Linked DNA regions of Homo sapiens: all the other regions are reported to be linked to region 7. The links are microRNA targets in miRTarBase. Many come from high-throughput screens and were not tested one by one. Region 7 holds a microRNA gene; each other region holds the end of a gene's coding sequence. Distances are from middle to middle.
What was found. The annotated mature microRNA hsa-miR-515-5p reads UUCUCCAAAAGAAAGCACUUUCUG and lies in region 7 at 2,711-2,734, shown strand. An mRNA with a match to its seed (bases 2 to 7 or 8) in the 3' UTR can be bound and repressed. Matches are read on the target gene's strand: a 7mer-m8 pairs with bases 2 to 8, a 7mer-A1 pairs with bases 2 to 7 and ends in A, and an 8mer does both.

Region 1: miRTarBase lists RPL32 as a target of hsa-miR-515-5p. Seed matches in the 3' UTR shown: 7mer-m8 at 1,862-1,868 and 7mer-m8 at 1,283-1,289.
Region 2: the mRNA of CELF5 is a reported target of hsa-miR-515-5p. The part of its 3' UTR that is shown has no 7-base or 8-base seed match.
Region 3: the mRNA of CMBL is a reported target of hsa-miR-515-5p. Seed matches in the 3' UTR shown: 7mer-A1 at 1,581-1,587 and 7mer-A1 at 2,894-2,900.
Region 4: the mRNA of FZD5 is a reported target of hsa-miR-515-5p. Seed matches in the 3' UTR shown: 7mer-m8 at 339-345 and 7mer-A1 at 2,458-2,464.
Region 5: miRTarBase lists ZNF138 as a target of hsa-miR-515-5p. Seed matches in the 3' UTR shown: 7mer-A1 at 3,179-3,185, 7mer-A1 at 3,074-3,080 and 7mer-A1 at 3,011-3,017.
Region 6: the mRNA of FUT4 is a reported target of hsa-miR-515-5p. Seed matches in the 3' UTR shown: 7mer-A1 at 1,256-1,262 and 7mer-A1 at 2,353-2,359.

What each region holds. Positions count from the first base shown.
Region 1 is chr3:12,833,544-12,838,051 of GRCh38, forward strand. RPL32 (ribosomal protein L32) reads right to left here. Exons shown (of 4, transcript NM_000994.4): 4 at 942-2,680. The coding sequence ends at 2,551. CAND2 (cullin associated and neddylation dissociated 2 (putative)) reads left to right here. Exons shown (of 15, transcript NM_001162499.2): 15 at 212-1,260. The coding sequence ends at 439. Among named protein-coding and RNA genes, the nearest start is that of SNORA7A, 4.7 kb to the right of the region's middle.
Region 2 is chr19:3,291,976-3,296,671 of GRCh38, reverse strand. CELF5 (CUGBP Elav-like family member 5) reads right to left here. Exons shown (of 13, transcript NM_021938.4): 12 at 3,186-3,353. The coding sequence ends at 3,226. Among named protein-coding and RNA genes, the nearest start is that of CELF5, 70 kb to the right of the region's middle.
Region 3 is chr5:10,276,785-10,281,480 of GRCh38, reverse strand. It overlaps CMBL (carboxymethylenebutenolidase homolog), which reads left to right. Exons shown (of 6, transcript NM_138809.4): 6 at 849-3,886. The coding sequence ends at 1,028. Among named protein-coding and RNA genes, the nearest start is that of CMBL, 29 kb to the left of the region's middle.
Region 4 is chr2:207,764,201-207,767,200 of GRCh38, reverse strand. It overlaps FZD5 (frizzled class receptor 5), which reads left to right. Exons shown (of 2, transcript NM_003468.4): 2 at 1-3,000. The coding sequence ends at 219. Among named protein-coding and RNA genes, the nearest start is that of FZD5, 4.2 kb to the left of the region's middle. RefSeq lists an enhancer at 1-16 and a silencer at 51-110.
Region 5 is chr7:64,830,889-64,835,584 of GRCh38, reverse strand. It overlaps ZNF138 (zinc finger protein 138), which reads right to left. Exons shown (of 4, transcript NM_001271639.2): 4 at 1,905-4,134. The coding sequence ends at 3,383. Among named protein-coding and RNA genes, the nearest start is that of ZNF138, 39 kb to the right of the region's middle.
Region 6 is chr11:94,545,232-94,548,231 of GRCh38, forward strand. FUT4 (fucosyltransferase 4) reads left to right here. Exons shown (of 1, transcript NM_002033.4): 1 at 1-3,000. The coding sequence ends at 495. PIWIL4-AS1 (PIWIL4 antisense RNA 1) reads right to left here. Exons shown (of 5, transcript NR_135093.1): 5 at 101-615. Among named protein-coding and RNA genes, the nearest start is that of FUT4, 2.8 kb to the left of the region's middle. RefSeq lists an enhancer at 267-941.
Region 7 is chr19:53,682,312-53,687,007 of GRCh38, forward strand. MIR515-2 (microRNA 515-2) reads left to right here and starts at 2,698; the gene lies at 2,698-2,780. The region is part of intron 2 of LOC107985342 (a long non-coding RNA gene); the gene reads left to right. It overlaps MIR519C (microRNA 519c), which reads left to right and starts at 4,158; the gene lies at 4,158-4,244.

The DNA of each region.
Region 1 (4,508 bases), not on the chromosome of region 7:
CAAAGAACCTCTGTGGGGAAACTAGCCAGTGCAAAAGCCCAGAGGTGGAGTTAGGAAATAGCTGGTGAGACAGAAGCCTCAGGAGACCTCGCAGCAGGGATTTATGTTGGGGAAGATGATGGGGCAGAGAGGAAGCCAAAGACCAGTGAGGAGGCAGTGGTGTGGGCCAGGCTCAATAAAGGATGGCTGCTTCTGCTGTTTCCTACTTTAGGTCAAAGCTGGTTCTGTGAAGCAGGAGTTTGAAAAGCAAGATGAACTGAAGCGCTCTGCAATGAGGGCAGTGGCTGCCCTGCTGACCATCCCCGAGGTGGGGAAAAGCCCCATCATGGCCGACTTCTCTTCCCAAATCAGATCCAACCCTGAACTTGCTGCCCTCTTTGAAAGCATCCAGAAGGATTCCGCTTCAGCCCCCAGCACAGACTCAATGGAGCTCAGCTAGTCCCCTCAGCACCAAGGTGGGCCCTCGCTTAAGAGAAAGGAGCCCACCCAAGTCCGAGGCCTCCCCATCCCACCATCGCAGGTCTCTACTTTTGCCCTTCCACCATCTCACTGGGGGCCCTGTCGCTCCTGGTCAGGGCTTACAGTGCCTTCTCCAGGGACCCAACTCAAAGGCCCCCAGCCCAAGCTGTGAGGCTGCCAACAGTTGGGCCCCTTCCTTAACTCAGGACAGTCATCCAAAGAAATAGGGTGAGGAAGTTTTCCAGTGACTTCACACTGTACCCCTCCATAGTCTGTCTGGTTCCTTCAGAGGGTGTCTCTGCCTCACAAACTAGTAGTATTTAGAAATAGGCTGTGCTGTCAGCTGTAAAAGATCAGGAGGCAGCAGACACCACTCTGGTTTCTTCACTGCATTCAGCAATGCCTGAAGTTAGTGCTCAGGCCGGGCATCTCAAAAGAAAAGATACTTGAGTTATTCACATTTTAAAATTCAAAACGGTTCATTTTTAAGTGGCAGTGATGAATCAGAAATTTGGAAGATGATACGGGTTTCTTTTTTCCAGGGAGGAGGAATGGGTTGGGTAGGGAACTGGACAGGCTTGGACCTCATGTTTCATTTCTAATTTCAAAATACTTATTAGCAAATTGGGCAACAATGGGCATCTTCCATGCCACCACCCAGGCATAACCAGTTGGTTTGTTTCCTTCTGAGGAAGGTTTCAAATGTGTCTAGTGTTCAGTATTGAGGACAAAGAAATACAAGTGGCAGGCCCAAGTATTTTCTGTGATATCCCAGGTTAATAAAGATTAGATTCTAAGTTACTTCTTTCCTCTGCACGACTCGTCTCCAATTGTTAATCGAATCGCCTGAACCCAGGAGGCAGAAGTTGCAGGGAGCCAAGATCAAGCCACTGCACTCCAGCCGGGGTGACAGAATGAGTCTCAAAAACAAAATCCCAAAAATGACCAGTTTGCATTATAAATATTTATGACTAGGTTTTGAACAGGAGACAATCTGTAAGATTCCTGTCTAGACTAGAAGTAGAAAAGCTTTATTATACCCAGCGCAGCATTTCTGCTAAGTTGACCAGGATGGTTACAGAAAAACATCCTGTAAGCATTTCTGTCTCATAAGTACCACATCCCATATCCCTCATGACCTATATACTACAGAAGATGCCTGTAATCCCAGTACTTTGGGAGGCTGAAGCAGGATTGCTTGAGCTCAGGAGTTCGGGAGCCTAGGCAACATGGCTAGACCACCTCTACAAAAAAACTTCAAAAACTACCCAGGTTTGGAGGTGTGCATCTGTAGTCCCAGCTACTTGGAAGGCTGAGGTGGGAAGATCACCTGAGCCTGGGGAGGTCAAGGCTGTAGTCAGTGTGCCACTGCACTCCCAGCCTGGGTGAGAGCAAGACCCCGTCTCCAAAAAAAATCAGGACCACGTGTCACTAAATTCTGAGTACCAGTCAAGAGGCTCAATTGTCACCAGTTAGGTCCCCGCCTTGGCAAACTGCTGTAACATTATACCTGAAGCAGCAGCTGGTGGGAGGGTTATAGGAGACTGAAAGTGCTTTTCCAGTTAACCGTGGTGGATTACCTGGAAGAGCAATTTGTACATCATCCTGTTCTTTTTGGACAGAAGTTACAGGATGCAATTTAGGCATCCCGTAAGAATCTGTGTAAGAAATTCATCTGGATATTTCCATGCATATTTTCTCAATTCTCACAAGCATCACATGGAATAACTTGTCACCTAACTTTACAAAAGCAAGGCTAAGAATGACTACTTGTGGCTTGGGAGCCACAAGCTTCTTCAAGTGTCTCAGAACCTACCTGGTGTGAGGGCCAAGTCTGTACCCCTCATACCCAGCCTCAACTGGAGATGACTAAGGCTAGTCTGTGCACTTGAGGCCACATTCCCCTGTTCAAGGACTGAGTGTCCTTTACAAATCCCCTCCAAATGGGAGATTCCAAAGGGGCTTAAGCAAAAGAACAATCTCTGTGGCAAACTAAGTTGGCCAAGAAGCTGAAGACTTAAAATCAAGGAAGGAAGATGCCAGATGGCAGTTTTTACATTTATTTAAACAGAAAACGTGCACATGAGCTGCCTACTCATTTTCTTCACTGCGCAGCCTGGCATTGGGGTTGGTGACTCTGATGGCCAGTTGGGCAGCTCTTTCCACGATGGCTTTGCGGTTCTTGGAGGAAACATTGTGAGCGATCTCGGCACAGTAAGATCTGCAAGAGAATCAAGTAGGTAAGGAGCAAGACAGCCCTCAACACACTTGGAAAATTCCATTGGAGAGGCAATGAGTCCCAGCACCAAGCTAAGAGAGGGCTGCTTGGTAAGTGGCTGTGGAATGACACCTACATGCCCCCAAATCCTGACTATGGTTCCCTGGTGGTGACAAGAATGCTTTCATTAAAAAGTACCCTCATTGTCCCCTCTCATCCTTATAGCAGCCTTGTAATCCAGGCATTACCTCCATTTTACAGATAAAGAAACCAAGGCCCACAGCAAGCAATGGACAGGGATCCGGGGCGAACCCAGGCCCACACTCCAGGTTCAAAGGTTCTCCCCCAGTCACAGGGTGCTTGACCTTGCCCATGAAGGTTCAGAACTCTTTGCAAAATGGTCAAGAGCAGAACCCAAGAGTCTGAATGGAGCCAAGAGCACCTGGTTTGACTGCTGAGGATACAAAGCAAGTTGAGAAGCAACAATGCTTAAAGTCACCCAGTCATAGCCATGCCTATTACCTGAGGACTTCAGATCCAGTTCTAACTCATTCCTCACAACTTTTTAAGAGGCAGCTACACTGTGCCCCATTTGATAACCAATAGGCCTAACAAGCACACTTCAGTAAGGAGGTGATTTATGAAGCCACCCACAGTGGTTAAGAACAGACATTCCACCCCTAAAGCATTTTCAGCAAAGAGAGAAGCAGCAGGACTGTGAGGAGTGATTGAGGCAGTGGACACACAGCTCTTTTCAAGAACCCTGCCTTAACAGCAAGACAGCAAATCCAGACAATTCTTGTTTTATATGAGTCCACTCAAATTCAAAGCAATTGTATTTTTAAATGTTTCTACGTTTTAAAGACTTAGGTTATATTACACTTCTCATCTGTCTTTACTTTTCAAAAAACCCTCCTGTCCTTGTCCATCTATATATTTGATAATCACAATCAGAGTGTACCCACCATTTTAAATGTGTCCCCCCTGGCTTGGGCATTTTCCACACTACAACACTCGAATCATTTTGAGTGGACCCACAACATTTTATCCAGCACTCTACAATTCTCTCATTATATTTTCAGTTGTTTCCAGTGGGTTATTGCTGCAATGACTAGCTTTAGTTTGCCTGCTTTTCCATTCCTTAAGGACAAATGCCCAGAAATGGAACTTAGAGATCAAACGTCAAAGAGTATTTCTATGGATCTTAAAGACTGCCAAGCTGCGCTTACAGAGCATATGCCAACCAGCCAACATGTGCACTGCAACTGAGTAATCATGTTGGCCATACAACAGGTATTGCCTGTTACAGTTCAACTCATACAGCCAACTGTGGTTTCAGTATCCACCATTAATTCCTTCGCCCATCTTTTCTAACAGAAATTTTCAGCATTTCAACGCCTGGTTAAATTTCCAATCTTGGAAGGTAACCACGTTAGAATACTGGTCTTGTTCATTTTTATTACTTGTATCTACAACCACTGTAGGTGAAAGTTATCTTTGTAAACGTAAACACAAACATCCTAGTTAGTCACACACACTCCATGTTCTTTCTAGTTTACTTAGGAAAATTCAGCTTTTTGGCTTTCATTTACCAGTAAGTGAAGAAAATAAACTGTCACTTCCCATGAGAATTTTTCATTCCACTGCCCTAGTTTTAATCTAAGCAGGTCACTGAGTCTTTTATACACAAAGCTCACCAAGTGTCTAACTTACTCAAAACACCTAGAACTAGCTGGGTGTGGTGGAGTGTGCCTGTGGTCCTAGCTACCAGGAAGGCTGAGATAGGAAGACAGCTTGAGCCCACCTTGAGTTTGGGGCTGCGGTGTGCCAT
Region 2 (4,696 bases), 50 Mb from region 7:
CAAGCAGGCCCTCGGGGGCCTCGGCGGGCGCCGCGGACACGGGTGAGGCCCCCTCGAGGCAGATTGGCATGGCACACGCTTGCACACGGGGACACACGGAACACAGGCACGCTAGAGGAGAGTCTCGAAACAATTATCAAACTCTGGAATATCGAAACAAGTTGGTTCAGAAGATTTTTTTTTTTCTTTTCTATTTTTTTTTCTTTTTTCTTTTCTTTTTTTTTTTTTTTTTTTTTTCTGTGTGGTTTCCCCCACCCTACCGCCCCCCCTCCGGGTCAGTCAACACATTTTGGTAGAAAGAAAAGGAAATGCTTGGTTTTTTTTTTTTTTTTTTTCTTTCTTTTTAAATGTTTTTTTCTTTTGAGCTTATTAAGTTATCTGGCGCCTCATTTGGTAAGAGGCCTTGCCGGATGTCCAAACGAACTTGATGCTGTGCTTTGACGTGGGTGTCGCGGATTGGGCAGCTGTACAGAGGCACCCTCACAAAGACACCCCACCCCACCCCACTCCCAACTAGGAAACAAAAATCCATTGTGGTTTGATTTTTTCCCCCCATCTTTTTCTTCTCTTTTCTTCTTTGTACCTGCTCAGAAAGACCGGAAAAAAAAAAAAATCTCTGTAGAGGTATGAAGGTCATTATCAAGTTCGTCTCCAGTTAAAGGGGTGCTTGGCCGGTCCGGGTAGGGTCTTCCGCTACGCTTGGCAATCCTGGTTACAAGACCTTAAATTCGAGGCTGGTGATTCGAAGGCAGGGACAATGGCTGCCTGGCCTTGGGAGGGGGTGGTGAGGGGCAGGGGGGCTCCCCCCAACCCTGTCCGCCCCCCCCCTCCGACGGAAAGCTAAGGGCTATTGGTCACATGAGTAAGGCTATGACTCGGGCAGGGGAGCAGAGAAGGGCTGAGGCAGGCCAGAGCGTCTCTGTTGTACCTATATCCATCCCGGAGGGCAGGGCTCTGGGACGAAGGGGCGAGGTGGGGTCTGGAGGCTGCAGCTGGGACCAGGGACACTGAAGCTGGCAGAGCCCAACGGCCCTGGAGAATTGGTGGTGGGGGGTGCCAAAAGTCCTGGAGGTATGTTGTGTTGGCGGGTTCCTGGTGGGATGTGCCAGCCAGGAGGTGGTGGGGGTGGGGGTGGGGCACCTGGTATGTGTTGCGCGGGGTCCCGCCAACCTCAGCCCTTCCTGTGTCCCCCGCTGAGTGACCGGCCCAGGGTCACTCTACTCGGATGGAAGGAAGTCGGAAAAGTTTGGTCCCATGATCCGTACTCAAAATATATATATACTGTCTATAGATCTATATATATATGCATATATATATATATAGGAAAAGGTGTGATTTAGTTTGGGGAAGTCACCAAGTTTTGTGGGGAAGAAGCGAGAGCGTTTCCCAAAGCAGGGGGGGCGTGTGAACACTTCTGCCCACGATTCAGGAGCCTCCCCCACCCCCGCCCCTGCCCCAGGACAGACCCCAAAGGCCCCTCGCCACTCCAGGTGGCCTCCAGTAGAGGGGCAGGGCAAGGGGAGAAGAGGGGAGGAAAGGGCTGGTGTCCAAAGAACGGTTGGAATTTATGGGTAAGTCCTGGATCGGTTGGAAGCAGAAAACCCTCCTGGGATGGGAAGGCCCCTCACCTGGGGGAGAAGGGACGGGCGTTAGGGAGTGAGAACGGGGCCACACAGGTGGACACCACCTCCCCACCCTACTCCACCCGGCCAGGCTGGGATCTAGGAACACAGGGGCTCCCATCTTTTCCAAAAGAACAGATCCCACAAAGGCCAGAGTTCAGAGGCCAACAAACCCAGCTTTCAAAGAACTTAATGTCACCATCACCAAGCCCATTTCCTCCTCCTCTGGCAGCTGGGGACAGATATTTCTGTTTATTTTCTGTCTCTCCTTCCCTACCCCCTGCCATCTAAGGCCCGTGAAGGGGGTTTCTCCCCTGTCCTCCATCCCCCGTTTCTGTTCATTCACAGCTGCGTCCCCGAGCACTGGAACAGTGCCTAGCACATAATAGATGCTCAGTTAAAAAAAAAAAGTGCAGACTGAGAGTTAAAAGTGAAGGGATCGCAGAGAGCAGCTTTGGATTTTGCTTCTGGTTGGCAGTTCCTGAAGGTGCGTTCTGTGCAGGTAAATACTCCCAAATCTGTGTGTGCTGACCCGGGAGAAGGTGAAAAGGCCAGACAGCTTCTAACTGAGCGTCTACTCTGTGCCAGGCCCTAGGCGAGACTCTGATGACGACAGCGATGGTGATTTAAAAAAAAAAAAAATCAAAACGAATCATCCAGAACTCTTTAGGTGATGGGTTCTGGGCTCGGCTGCGAAAAGATGCCCCACTCTGTTCCCTAGGTGGACCGTTTCCGCCGTCTCTGGGGAGATGACTTTCTTGAACCCATTTTACAGATGAGGCTCATCAAGGTTTGAGACCCACGGTTAAGTTTCCACAGTGGCCCCACAAGGTTTACTGTTCATCCCCCCACAAAAAAATGTTGAGAAAGTGGTTTGCCCTGATGGCAAACTACAGTCTGGGTTTCGTTTTGCTTGTTTTTCTTGCATGATGGTGGGTGGGGCACGAATCCCACTTTTCCATCAACTCATTGGGTAGGAATGACACCCAGTGAGGGGCCGCTTGTCCCAGGGGAACTAGTGGAAATGGAGCGGGGACACTGGAAGCTGTCAGTGCCAACTGGACTGGGCCCTGAGCACTGTCCCCACCTTCCACGCTCCACTCCTGGTTCCGAGTTGGGGTCCAACCTTAGGGTTTGGGGTCTGGGGTGGGCACTTGGCATTTCCGTCTGGTGTTGGGTTTTCAGCAGGGAAAACAGACTCATAGGACAGGACAGAACCCCCTCCCCACCGCACCCCCACCCCCAGAGCAAACCTGGCCTCTCAGGTGAACTTCTATTCAGCCCTCAAAGCCTTCTCCGGGAAGGATTCCCTAACCGACCTCACTGGGCCCTGGCTCACCTCAGTCCCTACCCCATTCCCACCCTCTGCTCCAGCCCCAACCACAGGGGGATCGGGGGTGTCTACATCCAGCTCTGTCCCCGCCAACCCAACCCGGAGGTTTCTTGTAGCCTCTTGAAGCATCACCCCACCTGGGGAGGGTTTGGAGCATGAAGTGGGCCGCGGGAGGGGGTTTCAGACAAGACGGGGGGCTTGGGCGGGGGTGGGGCCGCCTGGCGGCTCACCTGGGCCATGCCTACAGCCTCAGGGCGGCTGTGGGCGCGGTCAGTAGGGGTGTCCCGGGTCTTTGGGCCGCTTCAGCTGGACTTTGAGCCTCTTCATGCCGATCTGGAAGCCGTTCATGGCCTGGATGGCTGCCTGGGCGCTGGCCGGGTTATCAAAGCTCACGAAGCCTGCAGAAACCAGGGTGGACCTCCGTGGTTGGCGCTGCGGGTGTCCTCGGCTTGTTCCTATGCTGTGGCCCTGGCTTCCCGGCTCACGGGGTCCTGAGCAGGCCTGCGTGCACACCTGCACAGGCCAGGGTGTTTGTGGTGGAGGACACACAGCAGCCCTGGCTTTGTTCTGACACCTCTGGACTTGTATACCTCTGAGGATGGGGCACTCACTCCTTATCTTGGGGTCGGCTGTGCTGAGACTTCCCAGCTGGTATAGGGGCCAGGTGGGGCTTCCGAGGGTCCTGGAGGGCCACCTTTTCCCCACCTTCCCTCAGGAGGATGCCTGCCTCCTTCCAAGCCCTCTGTCCAGCCAGGATCTGTGTCTCCAGCTGACTGTGTGTCCACAACTTTGTCTCTCTCTTTTTTTTGCAGAAGGGAGTGGGGACAGGATCTCACTCTGTCACCCAGGCTGGAGTGCAGTGGCGCAATCTCAGCTCACTGCAGCCTCGACCTCCTTGGCTCAAGAGATGCTCCTGCCTCAGCCTCCTGAGTAGCTGGGACCACAGGCCCATACCACCATGCCCAGCTAACTGTCTCTGTTTCTCTCCCCTCCCCTCTTTCTCTCGTTCTCTAGCTTGAGTCTTTTCTTCCTCTCCCTCTCCTTCTGTCTCATCTCTGTCTCTTTCTCTCCATCTCTGTCAGTACCTCTGCTCCAGTCTCTGTCCAGAGGCCATCAGAAATACTCCACCCCATGGCCAGGCGTGGTGGCTCACGCCTGTAATCCCAGCACCTTGGGAGGCCAAGACGGGCAGATCACCTGAGGTCAGGAGTTTGAGACCAGCCTGGCCAACATGGTCAAACCCCGTCTCTACTAAAAATACAAAAATTAGCTACGCATGGTAGTGTCCACCCGTAATCCCAGCTACTCAGGAGGCTGAGGCAGGAGAATCGCTTGAGCCTGGGAGATGGAGCTTGCAGTGAGCCGAGATCGCACTGATGGCACAAGACTCCATTTCAAAAAAAAAAAAAAAAACAAAGTCAAGGGCTGACCCTTTAAACAGGACAGTGTGAGGTTAACAGTCTGGTCTTTGGCCGGGTGTGGTGGTTCACGTCTGTAATTCCAGCACTTTGGGAGGCCGAGGCGGGTGGATCACCTGAGGTCGGGAGTTTGGGACCAGCCTGGCCAACATGGTGAAACCCCATTTCTACTAAAAATACAAAAATTAGCCAGACGTGATGGCGGGTGCCTGTAATCCCAGCTACTCGGGATGCTGAGTCAGGAGAATCACTTGAACCCAAGAGGCAGAGATTGCGGTGAGCTGAGATCGTGCAATTGCACTCCAGCCTGGGCAACAAGAGTG
Region 3 (4,696 bases), not on the chromosome of region 7:
CTCAGAAGGCTGAGGTGGGAGGATTGATTGAGGCTGAGAGTTTAAGACCAGGCTAGGCAGTCTAGCTAGATCCCTTCTCCACAAAAATATAAAAAAATTAGCTGGGATGGTGGCACACATCTGTAGTCCCAGCTATTTGGGAGCCTGAGGCAGGAAGATTGCCTGAGCACAGGAGTTGGAGGCTGCAGTGAGCCACGATTGTGCCACCGCACTCCAGCCTGGGTGACAGAGTGAGACCCTGACTCTTAAGAAAAAAAAGCAGTCATTTAGAAATTATTGTTATAATATTAGTAACTAATATATTAATGCAAGTGATTTCAAATAATAGATGTATCATTTTTCCATTTCCCTGAAATCTCTCCTTTGCCAGACATAAGGACTGTGTTAGTTATAAAATTAGCAGTAGAGGCCGGGCGCCGTGGCTCACGCCTGTAATCCCAACACATTGGGAGGCAGAGGCAGGCAGATCACTTGAGGTCAGGAGTTTGAGACTAGCCTGGTCAACATGGTGAAACCCTGTCTCTACTAAAAATACAAAAATTAGCTGGGCATGGTGGCGGGTGCCTGTCATCCCGGCTTCTCCGGAGGCTGAGGCAGGAGAATCACTTGAATGTGGGAGGCAGAGGTTGCAGTGAGCTGAGATGGCGCCACTGAACTCCAACCTGGGCAACAGAGTGAGACCCTGTCTAAAAAGAAAAAAATTAGTGGGAAAGAATTCAGTGTAACTGTGGAACTTGTTTCTGATTTAAAGCATTGATGTTAAATTTCTGTTATGAACGCTCACTAAAGATTTGGAGAATGGAAAGTATCACTAAAGGGTTAAAATCATGAAATCTTTTGCACACCAGGTATCTTTGCTGACTCAGAAGTTGAAAGAACACTGCAAAGTTGAATATCAAATTAAAACATTTTCTGGGCAGACTCATGGGTTCGTGCATCGGAAGAGAGAAGATTGCTCACCTGCAGACAAGCCCTACATTGACGAGGCCAGAAGGAATTTAATTGAGTGGCTGAACAAGTACATGTAGCAAGAATCAAGGGCAAGCCTTCCTAGAATAGCTTTCATCCCAAAATTTGCTTGGAAATAGTTAGATCATTTGATTTAATTTTCACTTTTATAAAATAAGTGTAGGAATCCTAAAATTGATTATTTCATTTGAAACACAAATTCAGTAGGACGTAATGCATGAAATAATTTAATTTTTGACATGTACATCGAATCATAATTTAAAAACAAGGTCTGACCAGGTGTAGTGCCTCATGCCTGTAATTCCAGCACTTTGGGAGGCCAAAGTGGGTGGATCACCTGAGGTCAGGAGTTTGAGACCAGCCTGGCCAACATGGTGAGACCCCATCTCTACAAAAAATACAAAAATTAGCCTGGTGTGGTGGTGCACGCCTGTAGTCCCAGCTACTTGGGAGGCTGAGGCACAAGAATCAATAGAACCCAGGAGGTGGAGACTGCAGTGAGCCAAGATTGTGCCACTACTGTACTCTAGCCTGGGCAGCAGAGTGAGACCCTGTCTCAAAAATAAATAAGTAAATAAATAAATAAATAAAATAAAAACCAGGTCAGTACCTGGAGAATTTGAATGATAGAGAATGATAGAGTAATACCCTAATTATTAGTTAAAACCTACAGGCCGGGTGCGGTGGCTCACGCCTGTAATCCCAGCACTTTGGGAGGCCGAGGTGGGTGGATCACTTGAGGTCAGGAGTTCAAGACCAGCCTGGCCAACATGGTGAAACCCCATCTCTACTAAAAATATAAAAATCAGCCGGGCATGGTGGCATGTGCCTGTAATCCCAGCTACTCAGGAGTCTGAGGAGGAGAATCACTTGAACCTGGAGGCAGAGGTTGCAGTGAGTCGAGGTTGCGCTACTGCACTCCAGCCTGGACAACAGAGGGAGACTCTGTCTCAAAAAAAAAAAAAAACCTACAGCTGTTCAAGGACCAGCTGACAGGTCAAGTGTGGCCTTTTCTGGTCTTTGAACACATCATAGAAAGTGACAAATGCTGCAAAGCCATGAAGAACATGAACTATAAACGGGTAGACTAACTGCCCAGCTTAGACACTTATCTATGCCACAAAACAGCTGAATTTGTCACATTTATATATTGCAATATGGGAAGTATTGAGATCAAAACAGGATTCCATTGACCTAATTATATTAAGCTAATAAACTAATTTTTTGAATTTTTGAATTTGCAGCTTTTTTAAAAAGATAGCAGAGAACGGTGGGCTAGAGTTGTCACCCAGCTGTTGTCTCCTAAGCAGTGGATTTCCAAGCACTGGCATTTTTGGGTCCCAGGGCCTGAGGCTACCTCAGAAATATCTCCTGTGTTTCTGGTGGTGGCGTAAAGGGGAGAGCCGGTGAGAAACTCTGCACCTGCACCTACGGGGTGCGTACATGTGACTTTGGGCAAGTGACTTGATGTTGTAGTTTTTTTCCTAATTTTGTCTTGACGTCCTTCTCAGGAGAGAGTGGCTGTAAACTCTAGCCCTGCCCTGACGGGGATCCTGGGGATGTGGTCGTGGGTGTTTCCCATGTGCCTTTCATGGGATCCTTCTTTGACCTCACAGACGGCCTGATTCCTGAGTGTCCAACCTGTGGCCAGGTGTCCCTCTCGCAGGAAGCTTGTTTATCCTGGCACATGACCTTGTGGCTCTCATCTGACCTGTGTCCAGTTTATTCCTACTGAGACAGCCACTCTCCCGGAGAGCCCTGACCGGGAAAGAAGTTAGGATGGGGTAGAGGAGGCAACTCATCAGAACCCAAGAAATGACAGAAGCAGTTTATTGCTTACAGATCCAGAGAACAGAGGGCAGCACGCTTCACAGGGCCAGCAAAAAGGGGGAGCCATTCAGGACACATGGGCTCAACCAGAAGGTGGAGAACGAGAGAGAGAGGGAGCTATGAGCCAAAGCCTTCACTGGGGCCCAGGGTGTCATCTATGCAGGTTTCCCCTGGAGGTTCTAACTGGGGGGTTTAGAGCAAGCAGGCATGAGCCCCGGGGACTCACGCTGTGACTGAGAGGGGTCGGTGTGGGTAGGATATCGGCATGGTCCATGTGGGTGTGGGGGTCAGTGGGACAAGTCAAGCAGGTGGTATCCAGCTGTCCATGGGAAGGTGGTCCCAGGAGGCGGTTTTGTAAGGCAGATGTCTGGATCGACCACCTTGGGGAACAGTGAGAAGTTGTATAACTGGAAACTGTGTTACTAATCCCTGCTTCTAGTATGAGAAAGTCCAACTTACATTCAAATAGATGCTCAGGAAACATAAAATTCAAAGAATTCCCAAACTTGAGCTTCCTGAGCCTCAGTTTTTGCATCTGTCAAATGGGTATGGGGAGACCCTTTGCCTAATGTTGAGAGAATCCAAGCCTGAGCAGGGCTGGTCTACTGTGGACACTTAGTTGTGGACCCCAACAGGCCAAAGCCCTTGCCTGCTGAGGGCTGCTCCCAGGAGGCCTCACACATTCATCCGGCCTCCCAGGAAACCCCTGAGATGTGCTGGGCTTTTGCCGTGGAACGGTGTCGGTGAGCATGTGGCCAGTAGCCAGAGTCTTCAACATAGGTGGGAGGTCTGAAATTCGTGCGAGAATGAACCAAGGGTGTGGCTGTATCCTTCATGGTGAGCTTGGGGCCTGGGCAGCCTTCCCTCTGCTGAGTCCTTTGGTCAAATGTCATGGTGTTCTGAACCAGCACTGCAGATAGAAGTATAATGTAAGTCACACACGTACTTCTTTAAAAAGATATGTTCTTCAGTGACTATTAGACAAACAGATAAATGAAGGTAAAGGGAAAAAATGGCAACTTTAGCTTTTTTCCCCATGTATGTAATTTTAAATTTTCTTATAGCCCCATTAAAAAAAGGAAAGAGACACAAGTGAAATTAATTTTAATAATGCATTTTAGCCCAATTTATCACAAATGTTCCATCAGTGTGTAATCAATGTAACGAATCATGAGTGAGATATTTTGTATTTTTTTTTTTTTGTTCCTCTATCTTTGACATCTGGTGTGTATTTTCTGCTTACACATATCTCCATTTGGATGCTAACTTTTCATCAGAAGTACTTGATTTGGCCAGGCACAGTGGCTCATGCCTGTAATCCCAGCACTTTGGGAGTCTGAGGTGGACTGATCATTTGAGGTCAGAAGTTCAAGATCAGCCTGGCCAACATGGTGAAACCCCATCTCCACTAAAAATTCAAAAATTAGCTAGGCATGGTGGTGGGCACCTGTAATCCCAGCTACTTGGGAAGCTGAGGCAGGAGAATCACTTAAACCCGGAGGTGGAGGTTGCAGTGAGCTGAGATGGTGCCATTTTACTCCAGCCTGGGCCACAGAGCAAGACCATCTCAAAAAAAAAAAAAACAAAAAAAAGTACTTGATTTATGTTTAGATTTCACAAAATTTACAGTTGAGAAAAGTAGATTTACATATTTAAGTTTTCCGATAACTGAGTCTAGCATCAAAAGTCATTTCCTTTACAGTTCACCTCCCACATTGACAAAACTGCTTCATTTGTTTTAGAACAATTGATTTGACTTTGAAGCAAAAGCGTATCCGTTTCAAAATGACGTCAATCTAAATTAAGTGAATTTACTGGCTTTTGTGTCACTGTCATCTCAGTGCTGACAGCATCGAGGTCAGAGGGTCTAGCACACACTGAACAGAGATCCGAGTGT
Region 4 (3,000 bases), not on the chromosome of region 7:
GGCATCACGTCGGGCGTCTGGATCTGGTCGGGCAAGACGGTGGAGTCGTGGCGGCGTTTCACCAGCCGCTGCTGCTGCCGCCCGCGGCGCGGCCACAAGAGCGGGGGCGCCATGGCCGCAGGGGACTACCCCGAGGCGAGCGCCGCGCTCACAGGCAGGACCGGGCCGCCGGGCCCCGCCGCCACCTACCACAAGCAGGTGTCCCTGTCGCACGTGTAGGAGGCTGCCGCCGAGGGACTCGGCCGGAGAGCTGAGGGGAGGGGGGCGTTTTGTTTGGTAGTTTTGCCAAGGTCACTTCCGTTTACCTTCATGGTGCTGTTGCCCCCTCCCGCGGCGACTTGGAGAGAGGGAAGAGGGGCGTTTTCGAGGAAGAACCTGTCCCAGGTCTTCTCCAAGGGGCCCAGCTCACGTGTATTCTATTTTGCGTTTCTTACTGCCTTCTTTATGGGAACCCTCTTTTTAATTTATATGTATTTTTCTTAATTTGTAACTTTGTTGCATTTTGGCAACAATTTACCTTTGCTTTGGGGGCTTTACAATCCTAAGGTTGGCGTTGTAATGAAGTTCCACTTGGTTCAGGTTTCTTTGAACTGTGTGGTCTCAATTGGGAAAATATATTTCCTATACGTGTGTCTTTAAAAAAAAATGTGAACAGTGAACGTTTCGGTTGCTGTGACTGGGAAGTTGTTGGGTGTGCTTTTTCAGCCAGCTTCTCCTTCCACTGCTTAAAGTGTCCATGATTCTTTAAGGTGAGCTGCAGTTTATAGCCCCAGGTCATACCTAGGAGGGGAGCATAATGAGCTCAGGGCCTCCCCAAAGTGACAAGGTTAGGGAGTGCTTAGCGGTTTTGTGTTCAGCCTTAGCTTTGTTTATAGAGGGAGGTTCAGTTTCTTTTCTGTAGTGCTTGTAATAATTCTCACTCCTAACAGCACCATCGTTGTGTCTTGAATAAGTTAGAGGTAGCATTATAGAGGATCTGGCATAAATATTTGCAGTAGTGAGAGCCTAAGCGATGGTGATTGGTGGAGCTTGAATTTTAGGCTGGTGAGATGGCAGCTTTGTGCCTGAGAGGTAGTGGGTGGTTCTTAAGCTTCAGTGATCCCCTTTTTTTTTTTTTTTTTTTTTTTTTAAGGAACTTGTGTTATAATTTTGGTAAAAGTATAAACCCACTCCCTCTGGACAATACTTAGCGACAGTTGCTAAAGGGGGCTCCTTTTTAAATGTAAGGACTGAAATGGATATACTTCTAATAAGTAAATTTCCAACACTTATTTGCTCCACCCCCTCCCCCCTCCCCCCTCCCCCTTTATCATGTTAAACAGCCTTTTTGCTTTTCTTATTCCTCCTCTCCTGGAGAGCTGTGATTAGAAACCACACCCACCCTTGAATGAAGTGCTTGAACTGGGGGAGGGAGGCTGGCTACCTGTGAACAAACATTGGCCCAAATAAGGGAAAATAAGTGTTCCTGGACTTTGGACTAGTTTATAGCCAGATATTCCAAGAGCAGCAAGACGTTGCTCTCTGCCGTCTCTGAAAACAAAAGAGATGCATAACATGCTTGCACAACCTTTTAAAATATAGATCAGTATAGTGCTACCTCTATAGTTTTCTTCCTCTTCTGAGAAAGCCTGTATATTGATGATCACACACACACACACTTTGCAATTAGAGAATTTGGTTTGCTTTACTAATCTGTTTAACTATTCCTTCATTCATTATGAACGCTTATATTGATGAACATACACACAGAGGTTTCTTTGCTATTAGAAAATTCTGTTTGCTTTCCTAATCTGTTTAAGCATTCATTCATGAAGAGTGTGGGGCCATTACTGGGGAAGGGGGGTGACAGTGCCTCAGCCAGCAAAATACCAATGACCAGGATTGGGGACTAAATTTAGGAAGCTAAAATGGCCAGAGCAATTAACATTTGAGAAAATCCTGTCTAGGAAAACAACTTGAGTGTAGGCATTTGTAATTCACTTATACCAAAGTTGGAAAAGTAAAATTTAAGCCTAGGACAATTTTTACTTCATGGATGTTAAATAGACAAATGCATAGTTCCCAGGGGGAATTTAAACACTTTACTGGTGGGAAGAAACCTAGTATTAAAGTTGTAAGGACTCTCAAAAACTTCACATTTATTAAAATGCACTGCTCTTACCCAATTTATCCTCTGAATTAAAATTTCAGTGGATTCTACAAAACCTCGTACAAATAGCTACAGAACTTTGTGCCTATTTTATTCCTCTATTTATTCTTCTAGGAAGAAGCCTCTTCCTAGAATCTTGAAATAGATCCCTTGACTGAATGCCAATTCCTCTCCTGTTTTTCAAATGAGAGAACCTTTTCTGATCACCTTGACCTTTTCCCTCATTTCATATGTCTTCCCAGAAAGTAGACAGACTGCTCTGCTGCCTTCAGTCATTGTGCCTCATTTGGGTTGTCCCTCCTTCTTTGTGGAGAAATCTGGAAATGATGCACAGTGTATCCAAAAGTTGTGGGATGAAGTGGATGAAAGTGATTTAATTCATTTTTAGAATTTTTTTTTGTTTTGTTTTAGCAACATGCTGAACAACTAATTTACTTTAAAAATAAGCCAGTTAAAACAAAGGACGCTAAGCCCAAGTGGGGGGCAATATTAGTCAGGATCTTTGGGGTCTAATTCCAGACCAACTTTCAGAAGCACTTCTTTGTCTCTGTTCTCACCTCTGCTGTCCCTCTCTTCCCTCATCCCCTAAGAGAGACAAAGATAAAAGCCCACCTGCATCCCTAAGTCTTACTGAGATCAGCCACCCCAGGGGAGAGAAACTGGATCTACTTACAGCCACCCCCTGTTTCCATCCATATAGTTACTTCCCCCAATTTGCATGTGATTATGGAAACAAGTCATGCTCATGAAAGCAACTGTAAAATAAAAGGTTATGGAGTAGTTCAGCAACTTCTTCACAGCCAGCTTTGTGGAGCTGGGGAGGACTTAGGGCCCATTGGAGTCTCTTATGT
Region 5 (4,696 bases), not on the chromosome of region 7:
TTTACAAACTTTAAAAAAAAAAGATCCAAGAGGAGTTAAAACATTCCTAGGACCCTCTCCACCCTGGTCCTTCTTGGTGGTTTTCACCTGTGGTTCAACAGATGCTCCCTTTCCTTATCCCAATTATAATTCTCTGTATAATAATGTGTTTTGCCCCAATCCTAGTACAGTTTCTCCGCCAGCGGATACAAGAAATCACCAGGGTCACTTTCAACCAGATGTTACTTCACCCCTACGTCCAACTGCCAACCTCTGATTTAGGCCCTCTCCCCAGTGACACCCCTTAACAGCAGGAAGTAGCCAGATGATTTCGTCGCCCCTTTTCTATAACCAAAAATAGGCTGGACTGATTGGACTCCAGTGAAGACTCCAAGATGGCGATCACCACCTCAGATACCCCGACTCAGCATTTCCGGGTTCACCTTTCCTGTTCCCGTCACCCCGACTAACGCGCATGCCCACTAGGGCGTGTCACACTCAGAAGTGTGAAACTCAACCGACCCCGCCCCTACCCTGCCCACTCCTCACCCAGCATCCATAAAAGCGCGCTGCACCTTTGGCACAGTGCGACTTCCCTGGCCCTCCCCCTGTGGACCAGTGAACCTCGCCCGAGAGCTCAATAAAGATTTTTGCCCTCTTTGTCTCGCCTCTTGGCCTTATTGATCCACGGTGCCCTTCCATTGCCTTTCAAACTGTACTGCATTTTATTACATAAAAGTACAATTAGTAAAATTATATACTAATTAATTTTAACTAAAATTATTTTGTTTGGAGTATAACGCAGAATACTACTCTGAACACTTACCTCATACATCACTCAATATTATAAATTAAACACAAAGAGCCTCTCCACTTAGACTTTTGTCATGCATCCTACATTGTAATGTCTTTACTCTTCCATAGAAAAATTCAAAAACAATATTGACATAACAAAAAAGAATCTCTCATACCTTTGATGCAGCAACAATTGATCACATGCTTTCACTAGTGAATGCAATAGGAATGAAGAGCATGAAGTAATTTGAGTTGAATTACATTATTCACTTTTCATAAATTCTGCAATTTTTTTCAAGGAAAAAAGTATACTTTGAATGTAATTGTAACTCTGCAAAAATATTTCTACTTCTTTTAAAGTTATGTACAAATAATTTATCTACCCACTTTAGTTTTGGGTTATTTTATATACTCAGCACATTTACTTAGTGCAATGTTTGAAGTGTCAGTGCCTTAGATATTTTTACTGTGAATTCTCTGATACTTACGTAGCCTTATTTTTGATTTTTTTTATATTTACTGCATGTGGAAAAATATAGTTTAGTATGCATCCCCTGGTGTTTTCTAAGATGTAGTTTTTGAAAAATTTTTGAAATGTATTACATTTGTAGTTTTTCTCCGATATAAATTCCCTGATGTTGAACGAAGTTTGAGCAACTGCTTCGGATACAAAATGTGTACAATAAGATCTGTGATACAAGTAAGGCAGGCACTACAACCCTCTTTATGTTTCTAATGTTTGTCTTCAAAATAAAAACTCTTTTTTTACTTTAAAGGCTTATATTGGCTGGGAACAGTGGCTCACACCTGTTATTCCAGCACTTTGGGAGGCAGAGGTGTATGGATCATTTCAAGTCAGGAGTTCGAGATGAGCCTGGCCAACACAGTAAAATCCTGTCTCTACTAAAAAATACAAAACTTAGCCGGGCGTGATGGTACATGCCTGTAGTCCCAGCTATTCTGGAGGCCCAGGCAGGAGAATTGCTTGAACCTGGAAGGCAGAGGTTACGGTAAACCAAGATTGCACCAGTGCACTCCAGCCTGGGAGAGAGTATTACGTAGTCTCATTTAAAAAAAACAAAACAAAACAAACAAACAAACAAACCACACACTAAAACAAAACCTTATGCTGAGTTTTGACAGTAATTGCATTTATAATGCTTTTATTAAGTACTAACTCTCTAATGTTGAATAAGATGTAAGCACATATTAATGGCTTTTCTACATTCTTTATATCAGTACAACATTTTCTGAAGTATAAATGCTTTCCTGTGCAATAAGGTATAGGAATTAAAGTTTTGCCATATTCTTCACACTTCTGGGAGTTTCTGCCAGTATGAATTATCTTACCTACAATCAAGTGTGACAACCATTTAAAGGCTTTGTCACATTCTTCACATTTTTATAATTTCTTACCAGTATGATTTCCTTTATGTTTAGAAAAATTTGAAGGTTTTGTTAAAATCATTTTCACATTTTTCTGGTTTGTAACATTTTCAGTATTAATTTTGTTTAGTAAGATTTGAGAATTGGTTAAAAGCATTACCACATTCTTCATATTTGTGGGGTTTCTCTCCAGTATGAATTATATTATGTGCAGAAAGGGTTGAAGACTTGTTAAAGAATTTACCAAATTTTTCACATTTGTGGTGTTTCTCTCCTGCATGAATTTTAGGTGTAAGAAGTTTTGAGGATTGTAAGTTTTACCACATTCTTTGAATTTCCAAGGTTTTGCTCCAGTATAAATTATCTTATGTATAGTAAGTGTTGAGACTTGGTTAAAAGCTTTGCCACATTCTTCACATTTGTAGAGTTTCTCTCCAGTTTGAATTTTCTTATGCATAGTAAAGTTCGAGAACTAGTTAAAACAACTGCCACATCGTTCACATTTGTAGGGTTTCATTCAAGTGTGAATCATCTTATGTATAGCAAGTTGTGAGAACTGGTTAAAAGATATGCCACATTCTTCACATTTGTAGGGTTTCTCTCTAGTATGAATCTTCTTGTGTTTAGTAAGGTTTGAGAGTTGGCTAAAACCTTTGCCACATTCCTCACATTTGTAAGGTTTCTCTCCAGTATGAATGATCTTATGTGCAGTAAGAGTTGAGGACTTCTTAAAGACCTTGCCACACTGTTCACATTTGTAGGGTTTCTCTTTACTATGAATTTTCTTATGTCTCATAAGGTGTGAGGACTGGTTAAAAGCTTTGCCACATTCTTCACATTTGTAGGGTTTTTCTCCACTGTGAATTATCTTATGTGTAATAAGAGTTGAGGACCAGTTAAAGGCTTTTCCGCATTCTCCACATTTGTGGGGTTTCTCCCCAGTATGAATTTTCTTATGTGTACTAAGGATTGAGTATCGGTGAAAAGCTTTTCCACATTCTTTACATTTGTAGGGTTTTTCTCCAGTATGAATTAACTTATGTTCAGTGAGCTTTGCGGACTGGTTAAAAGCTCTGCCACATTCTTCACATTTGTGGGGTTTCTCTCCGCTATGAATTATCTTATGTGTAATAAGGGTTGAAAACTGGTTAAAGGCTTTGCCACATTCTTCACATTTGTAGGCTTTCTCTCTAGTGTAAATTTTCTTATGTTCAGTAAGTTGTTAAGATAGGTTAAAAGCTTTGCCACATTCCTCACATTTGTATGGTTCCTCTCCAGTATAAATTATCTGATGTTTAGTAAGGGTTGGGGACTGCTTAAAGACCTTGCCACATTGTTCACATTTGTAGGGTTTCTCTTCAGTATGAATTATCTTATGTCTAGTAAGGTGTGAGGACTGTTTAAAGGCTTTGCCACAGTGTGCACATTTATAGGGTTTTTCTCCAGTACGAATTATCTTATGTTTAGTAAGGATTGAGGATTGGTGAAAGGCTTTTCCACATACTTCACATTTGTAGGGTTTTTCTCCAGTATGAATTTTCTTAGGTTTAGAAAGGTTTGTGGACCAGTTAAAGGTTTTTCCACACTCTTCACATTTGTAGAAATTCTCTCTAGTATGAATTTTTTTATGTTGAGTTAGGCGTGAAAGCATGCAAAGTGATTTGTCACATTCTTTACATCTGAAATGTTTATTTTCAGTATGTCTTATCTTGTGTCTATTTGAATTTGAAAATTTATGCATGACTTTTACATATTTATTACATTGAAATATTTTGCTTGTGGTAATTTTCAAACATTGGTTAAGTCCATTAAAACCTCCTTGGTGTCCCTTACACTCATCCACACTTTTACAGCCTTTTCTTAACTGTAAATTCTTATGTCCATATTTTCCATATCTGCTCAGTGTCACTTTTTGGAAAGAATCTTTTATGTTCTGCTCTAGCCAAAGGTCTTGGGCAAAACGAGAACACAGAGCTGAAAGAAACAAAAAATAACAAATTACTCCACCTGCTAGACTCAGATGAATATACTTTACAAATCTAACCTATAAAATCATACAAACTACATAAGCAAGATGGCATAGCAAAATACCACAGGTTCTAATTCCTTTATAGACATATAAATGTAACAAAAACATACCAAAACATATCTGTGGAGAATAAATGAGTTAAGTGTGTGCAGTGCCCCAGGTTTGCACAATGCAAAGAGCCACACAGAAGAGAGAGAAAAGTCTGTTACATTTACCCAACACAGCTCTTTCTGTTCCCCGATATAACATAGTGCCTCTAGAAGTAAACTGCCAACTCTTGGTTTCTTTTTCAAAAGGCAAGAGAAATAATAACACATACATCTTTATTTCTGGCTTCTAGGTGCTTTTGCAGACACTGGTTTCTGTTTCCCATGACATAAAGTGCTGAAACAAATGGCAGGATACTTTGGAATGACAAAATGTTGAGTCCACTGAGATCAAAGGTAAATGCTACAGCTGCAAAGAGACAGGGAACAGTTGTAGCAAGTGACTACTGACTATTAAGAT
Region 6 (3,000 bases), not on the chromosome of region 7:
CGCCAGGCCCGGGTCCGCTACTACCACCAACTGAGCCAACATGTGACCGTGGACGTGTTCGGCCGGGGCGGGCCGGGGCAGCCGGTGCCCGAAATTGGGCTCCTGCACACAGTGGCCCGCTACAAGTTCTACCTGGCTTTCGAGAACTCGCAGCACCTGGATTATATCACCGAGAAGCTCTGGCGCAACGCGTTGCTCGCTGGGGCGGTGCCGGTGGTGCTGGGCCCAGACCGTGCCAACTACGAGCGCTTTGTGCCCCGCGGCGCCTTCATCCACGTGGACGACTTCCCAAGTGCCTCCTCCCTGGCCTCGTACCTGCTTTTCCTCGACCGCAACCCCGCGGTCTATCGCCGCTACTTCCACTGGCGCCGGAGCTACGCTGTCCACATCACCTCCTTCTGGGACGAGCCTTGGTGCCGGGTGTGCCAGGCTGTACAGAGGGCTGGGGACCGGCCCAAGAGCATACGGAACTTGGCCAGCTGGTTCGAGCGGTGAAGCCGCGCTCCCCTGGAAGCGACCCAGGGGAGGCCAAGTTGTCAGCTTTTTGATCCTCTACTGTGCATCTCCTTGACTGCCGCATCATGGGAGTAAGTTCTTCAAACACCCATTTTTGCTCTATGGGAAAAAAACGATTTACCAATTAATATTACTCAGCACAGAGATGGGGGCCCGGTTTCCATATTTTTTGCACAGCTAGCAATTGGGCTCCCTTTGCTGCTGATGGGCATCATTGTTTAGGGGTGAAGGAGGGGGTTCTTCCTCACCTTGTAACCAGTGCAGAAATGAAATAGCTTAGCGGCAAGAAGCCGTTGAGGCGGTTTCCTGAATTTCCCCATCTGCCACAGGCCATATTTGTGGCCCGTGCAGCTTCCAAATCTCATACACAACTGTTCCCGATTCACGTTTTTCTGGACCAAGGTGAAGCAAATTTGTGGTTGTAGAAGGAGCCTTGTTGGTGGAGAGTGGAAGGACTGTGGCTGCAGGTGGGACTTTGTTGTTTGGATTCCTCACAGCCTTGGCTCCTGAGAAAGGTGAGGAGGGCAGTCCAAGAGGGGCCGCTGACTTCTTTCACAAGTACTATCTGTTCCCCTGTCCTGTGAATGGAAGCAAAGTGCTGGATTGTCCTTGGAGGAAACTTAAGATGAATACATGCGTGTACCTCACTTTACATAAGAAATGTATTCCTGAAAAGCTGCATTTAAATCAAGTCCCAAATTCATTGACTTAGGGGAGTTCAGTATTTAATGAAACCCTATGGAGAATTTATCCCTTTACAATGTGAATAGTCATCTCCTAATTTGTTTCTTCTGTCTTTATGTTTTTCTATAACCTGGATTTTTTAAATCATATTAAAATTACAGATGTGAAAATAAAGCAGAAGCAACCTTTTTCCCTCTTCCCAGAAAACCAGTCTGTGTTTACAGACAGAAGAGAAGGAAGCCATAGTGTCACTTCCACACAATTATTTATTTCATGTCTTTACTGGACCTGAAATTTAAACTGCAATGCCAGTCCTGCAGGAGTGCTGGCATTACCCTCTGCAGAACAGTGAAAGGTATTGCACTACATTATGGAATCATGCAAAAGGAAAAAAAGTTTCATGATATCTGTTGTTGGCAGTTTTTGTTTATCTCTGACAGTTTTTAGTTAAATGTTTAGATCCTCAGAACTACATTAGTGCCTACTATTAACTTACTCTGTCTCTTGTTAAAGGCTAAATCTGCGCTTCTCCCTGGTGCCAGCAGGTTCCCCTCACAGTCAATGCAGTGGTATAGCATATCCTCACATTTCTAGTGCCCTTGAGACTGTGCTATGGAACCAATCTTGAACATACATGCATTGACTTGACAAGTTACTGAGTAAGCAGCATATTCAGCAGGTGCCACTACATGCCTACTCTGCCAGACACTGAGCTTGGGGCCCTAGGGAAGATAGAGAATTATACAAGGCAAAGTCCTTCTCTTTAGGGCTCTTACAATCTATCACTTCCAAAAAGTAAATGGTGACTGATAAAACAATTGGCAGAACCTGTTTGATTACTGTGACAGTCTTAATGATACCATAAATCAATATTAGAAAGCTAGTTGACTTAAAGCCTGAAATAATGGGAGTTTTCTCCTCCACTTATTAGAATAAGGACCCTCAGTGACTAATTATTGTGGGTAGGGTCAAGATTAACTAGTTTTATACAGAGTTCTGCTGTAAATAGTCATTTTGCATTTGATTAGTGCAGTTCTCTGAATCATAAAGCAAGTTTTACCTCTCTGTACATGTTTTTGCAGACATACTTGAAAAGCTCACTTAAATCTAGGTGCTTCAATTCACTTTCTTGAGAGGACAAATGAAAAGCTGTGGAGAAAATGTCCTCATTAAAGTATTAAAGTGTGGGCAGAATTACAATTACAAAGTGCCAGCCACCGAATAAAGATAAAAGTTCAGTTCTTAAAATGAGTTTTTATGAGATAACAGTCAGTGATCTTGGTGTTACCGGGATTCCACATGGGGCAGTGGGAAAGAGTTCAGGTTTTGAAGGTAACCTAGTTTAGATTTGAATTCCAGCTATGTGACATTGGGTAAATTAGTAGTAGTCCTGAGCCTCAGCGTCCTCATCTATAAAATGACTGGCGAAAATACTTCACAAGCTCATTTTGAGCACTTTAGGAAGTAAGTGAAAGTACCTAAAATAGCAGGCACCCAATTGATGATTTTATATCTTCCTTCTTTGCTTGCAGTGATTTCAGGATGTCCTCATATCTATTTATAGGTCTAAAATTATATCTTAAGGTATGTTGTAGAATAAATTAAAAGGATAATCTAAATCACCATTTAGATTAAGCTTGACTTGCAAACTAGGAAGAAGCACCTAGGCTTTCTTTGAAAATATTTTTTTGGTTCGTTTTGGTAAAGCTCTATAAATTGGTATCTATTATTTTACCAATTTTTTTTTAGTATTAAGTCCATTTAGAACTAACCATATTATTTATGGAATAATTAGCATGA
Region 7 (4,696 bases):
GGATGATGGTGGGGTTTTGCTTTTGTTTTGTTGTATTCCAAGACAAGGTCCCTGTTGCCCAGGCTGGAGTGCGGTGACACTTCAACCTACATTTCTTGGGCTCCGGTCGTTTTTGTTTGTTTGTTTGTTTGTTTGACAGGGAGTCTCACTGTGTGTCTCAGCAATGCAGTGGCACTATCTTGGCTCACTGAAACCTCAGCCTCCTGAGTAGCTGGGATCACAGGTGCGTGCAACCACGCCCATCTAATTTTTGTATTTTTTGCATTTTCAGTAGAGACGGGGTTTCACCGTGTTAGCCAGGATGGTCTCGATCTTCTAACCTCGTGATCCGCCCGCCTCGGCCTCCCAAAGTGCTGGGATTATAGGCGTGAGCCACCGCGCCCGGCCGAGAAACTAATCTTTTGAGATGAACTCTGAGATGTGGATTTTAGCTTGTTTGCAGCCACCACCACTCTAGTTTTGGAAGATTTTCATCACCCCGAAGAGGCTTATACTCATTTGCAGTCAGTACCCACCCACCTCTTCCACCCAGACCGTGGCAACGACTCCCCATCTCTCTAGCTCTGGATCTGCCTCTTGTAGGCCGGTCACGTAGACCAATCTTGTATGGGTGTCCAGTTGAGGATAATGGGTTGGTCCTGGTTGTCTGCAATGTGAATCTTACCACTGAAGGGTGGTCCCTGGAGGGAAGCAGGAGGCTGGGAGAACTGGGCGGAACATCCTTTGGGAATGGAGTGGGGCGGGCAGACCCTGATGTCTGGGAAGCTCACAAGGGTGGAAGACCCCATCTTCCTCCCTGAGAACTGCAAGGTGACCCTCCTGGGGCACTGGAAGGAGTGAAGGCCTCTGGGCTGGGAACGTCAGGGCACTGCACCGATGCAGGCAGGATGAGCCGAGGGGAAAGGAGAAGCAGGCATCATTCTCTGGGGACATTTTGGGTTTGATCTGGATGGAGCAGGTGTCTTCTGGGAGAGAGAGCCCCTGGGATTTTCACTCTGCTCCCTGGCTGTCTTAGTCATGGAATCTGACAACAGAGACTCCTGCCCAGGGCCACTTCATTTGGTTTCTGGAGCCCAGTGGTCCTTCCTGCCTGGACTTGGGATCTTTTGGGGAAGTTTGGGATCTGGCTGGGCGTCTGCATAATCCATAGAAATCCCTGAGAGTCACTTCCCTTGGCTGACATCTCCATGTTCCTTACCCATTACCTTCCAAAGGAGACCCTTATCTGAATTACCAAAGGGGGCTTCCCAGAGCAGGGAAACCTGGTTAAATTTGTATTTCAGATTAACAGTATACTTGAGATGTACTTGAAGTAGAAATGATTGGCTGTGGGTGTCGGCATTTGTTTTTTCTAATTTTAAATATGGGACCATCATGAATTTGGGTGTCACTTTGTGCAGGGGACGTGGGAATCGCTGTCATTTTTTTTTTTTTTTAACATATGCTGCCAGAGAAGGCACTTAGGTGGAGAAATTACTCTTCGTGTGAGCATTCAGTATATAGAACTTCCTTTTCTGGGGGCAGTGTCTTATATATGATACACATTTTATCATATCATCTTCTATAGATAATATAATGATTAACACAAAACACTCTTCTACACACACAGAATACTCTTGTATCACTTTGGGTTTTTTTTCCTTCGTGTGTGTGTGTGTGTGTGTGTGTGTGTGTGTGTGTGTGTGTTATGAGACAAGGTCTGGCTCTGTCACCCAGGCTGCAGTGCAGTGTTGCAGTCTTGGCCCATGCCCCACCGCAGCCTCTGGAATAGCTGTCTGCAGGCCAGGCACGGTAGCTCAGGCATGTCGTCTCAGCACTCTTGGAGACCAAAGCAGGCTAATCACCTGGAGTCAGGAGTTTGAGACCAGCCTGGCCAAGATGGTGAAACCTCATTTCTACTAAAAGTACAAAAATTAGCCGGGCGCGGTGGCTCACGCCTGTAATCCCAGCTCTTAGGGAGGCAGAGGCAGGAGGATAGCTTGAGCCCAGGAGTTTGAGACCTGCCTGGGCAATACAGTGAGACCCTGTTCTCCACAAAAAGAAAAGAAAAAAAAGAAAAAAAAATTTTAAAAATGCAAAATTAGGTGGGCATCGTGGCACGTGCCTGTAATCCCAGGTACCCCAGAGGCTGAGACAGGAGAATTGCTGGAAACCTGGAGGCAGAGCTTGCAGTGAGCTGAGATCACGGCCCTGCACTACAGCCTGGGCAACAAAGTGAGACTTGTTTCAAAAAAAAAAAAAAAATTTATTGAGGAGCTTTTATGGCCTAGCCTGTGTTCTATCCTGGAGAATGTGTGTACAACAGTGTATATTCTTAAACATCATCTTAGATTCCATTTTGGATGCTTGCATGGGGACTGTGTGTCCCTGTACTGGGACTTATGTGAACACTTGGCTTCAAATCCATTGCTGTTCTCTAGAAATCCAGCCCAATTCTCATGGTTAAATATAAGGTATGTGTGGTAGGCATTGCTTTTTCTCTTTGGGGACAGAACTCAGGAGGATTGTCTCTTGATGAACAAGGCTAACCTGCTGAGCCTTTGAAGCAAGGAACTGGAGATGGTCCTTTTAGGGGTTTATATTCTGGATTCCAGAAAACATGCAGAGAGAGTCAATAAATGTATCTTTATTTTTGTGTCCATTTTAACCAGGTGAGGAAAATTCCGTCAAAAAACCCAGACTTTTGGAGCGAGAAGATCTCATGCAGTCATTCTCCAAAAGAAAGCACTTTCTGTTGTCTGAAAGCAGAGTGCCTTCTTTTGGAGCGTTACTGTTTGAGAAAAACCACGTTGAAGTTGATGCTGATCTTGGTAACACATTTGCAGAGCGTGCTTATCATCAGACTTGCATGATGTTGGGGTTCTGTTTTTGTTTAGTTGTTTTGCATCATGGGGTCTCTGTTGCCCAGGCTGGAGTGCGGTGGCGCTTCCAACCTAGATCTCTTGGGCTCAAGTGGTCCCGTGCTTGCTTTTTTTTTTTTTCTTGAAACAGAGTCTCTGTCTCTGGCCCAGGCTTGAGCGCAGTGGCATGTTATCTGCTCACTGCAACCTCTCCTCCCAAGTAGATGGGATTACAGGTGCACGTGCCACGACGCCTGGCTAATATTTGCATTTTTAGCAGAGATGCAGTTTCATCATGATGGCCAGGTTAGTCTCCAACTCCTGACCTCAGGTGATCCGCCTGCCTCAGCCTCCCAAAATGCTGAGATTATAGGTGTAAGCCACCCAGCCTAGCCTCCAATTTTTTTTAATGTGTGCTGCCAATGCAAGCACATATGTGTAGGAATTATTTTTCATGTGAGCACATAGTATATGGAACTTAATTTTTATTGATGTACGGTCTCAAAAATATATATTTTATCATATTCTTATTATACATGTAACATAGTCATATACACACAAAACACTCTTCTATACACAGAGAATACTCTCGTATCACTTTGGGTAATTTTTTGTTTGTGTGTGTATGTTTTTGTTTTTTTTTTAGATAAGGTCTGGGTCTGTCACCCAGGCTAGAGTGCAGTGGTGCCATCTCAGCTTATTGCAACCTCCACCTGCCACTTCAGCCTCTTGAGTAGCTGTCTACAGGCGCACACCACCACGCCCGGCTAACTTTTCTGTTTTCTCTACACATGAGGTATCACCATGTTGCCCAGGCTGGTCTCAAACTCTTGAACTCAAGTGATACTCCTGCCTCAGCCTCCTAAAGGGCTGGGTTTAGAGGTGTGAGCCACCACACCTCACCTGTACCTGTGTGTTTCTGCTCATTTTATTGAGGAGCTTTTACAGCCTGGCCTGTGGTCTCTCCTGGAGGGTGTTTGTGTGTGTGACAATGCATATTCTTCAACATCGTAGATTCCATTTTGGATGCCCCCGTCGGGACTGTGTGTCACTGTACTGGAACTCGAGTGAACACTTAGCTCAAAATCTATTGCTGTTCTCTAGAATCCAGCCCAATTCTCATGGTTAAATATAAGGTATGTATAGTCGGCATTGCTTTTTGAAACAAGGAACTGGAGATGGCCCTGATAGGGGTTTATGTTCTGGATTCCAGAAATCATGCAAACAGGGCCAATAAATGCATCTTTATTTTTGTGTCCATTTTAACCTGGTCAAGGAAAATTCCAACAAAAAATCAATGGTGCTGGAGCAAGAAGATCTCAGCCTGTGACCCTCTAGAGGGAAGCGCTTTCTGTTGTCTGAAAGAAAAGAAAGTGCATCTTTTTAGAGGATTACAGTTTGAGAAAAGCAACGTTAACGTTCATGCTGATCTCGGCAATACATTTGCAGAGCGTGCTTATCATCAGACTTGGATGAGGGTGGGCTTTTGTTCCTGGTTTGTTTGTTTTCTAAGACGGGGTCTCTTTTGCCCAGGCTGGAGAGCAGTGGCACTTCCAACCTAGCTCTCTTGGGCTCAGGTGGTCCTCTTTGCAGGGTCACGATCTCTGCTCACTACAATCTCCCCTTCCCGGGTTGAAGTGGTTCTCCCATCTCAGTCTCCTGTGTTGCTGGGAGTACAGGCCCATGCCACCACGCCCGGCTAATTTTTGTATTTTTAGCAGAGATGGGGTTTCACCGTGTTGACCAGGATGGTCTCCATCTCCTGACCTCGTAATCCACCTGCCTCGGCCTCCCAAAGTGCTGGGTTTACAGTCATGAACCACTGCACCCGGCCTTTGATCTTAATTTTCAATATG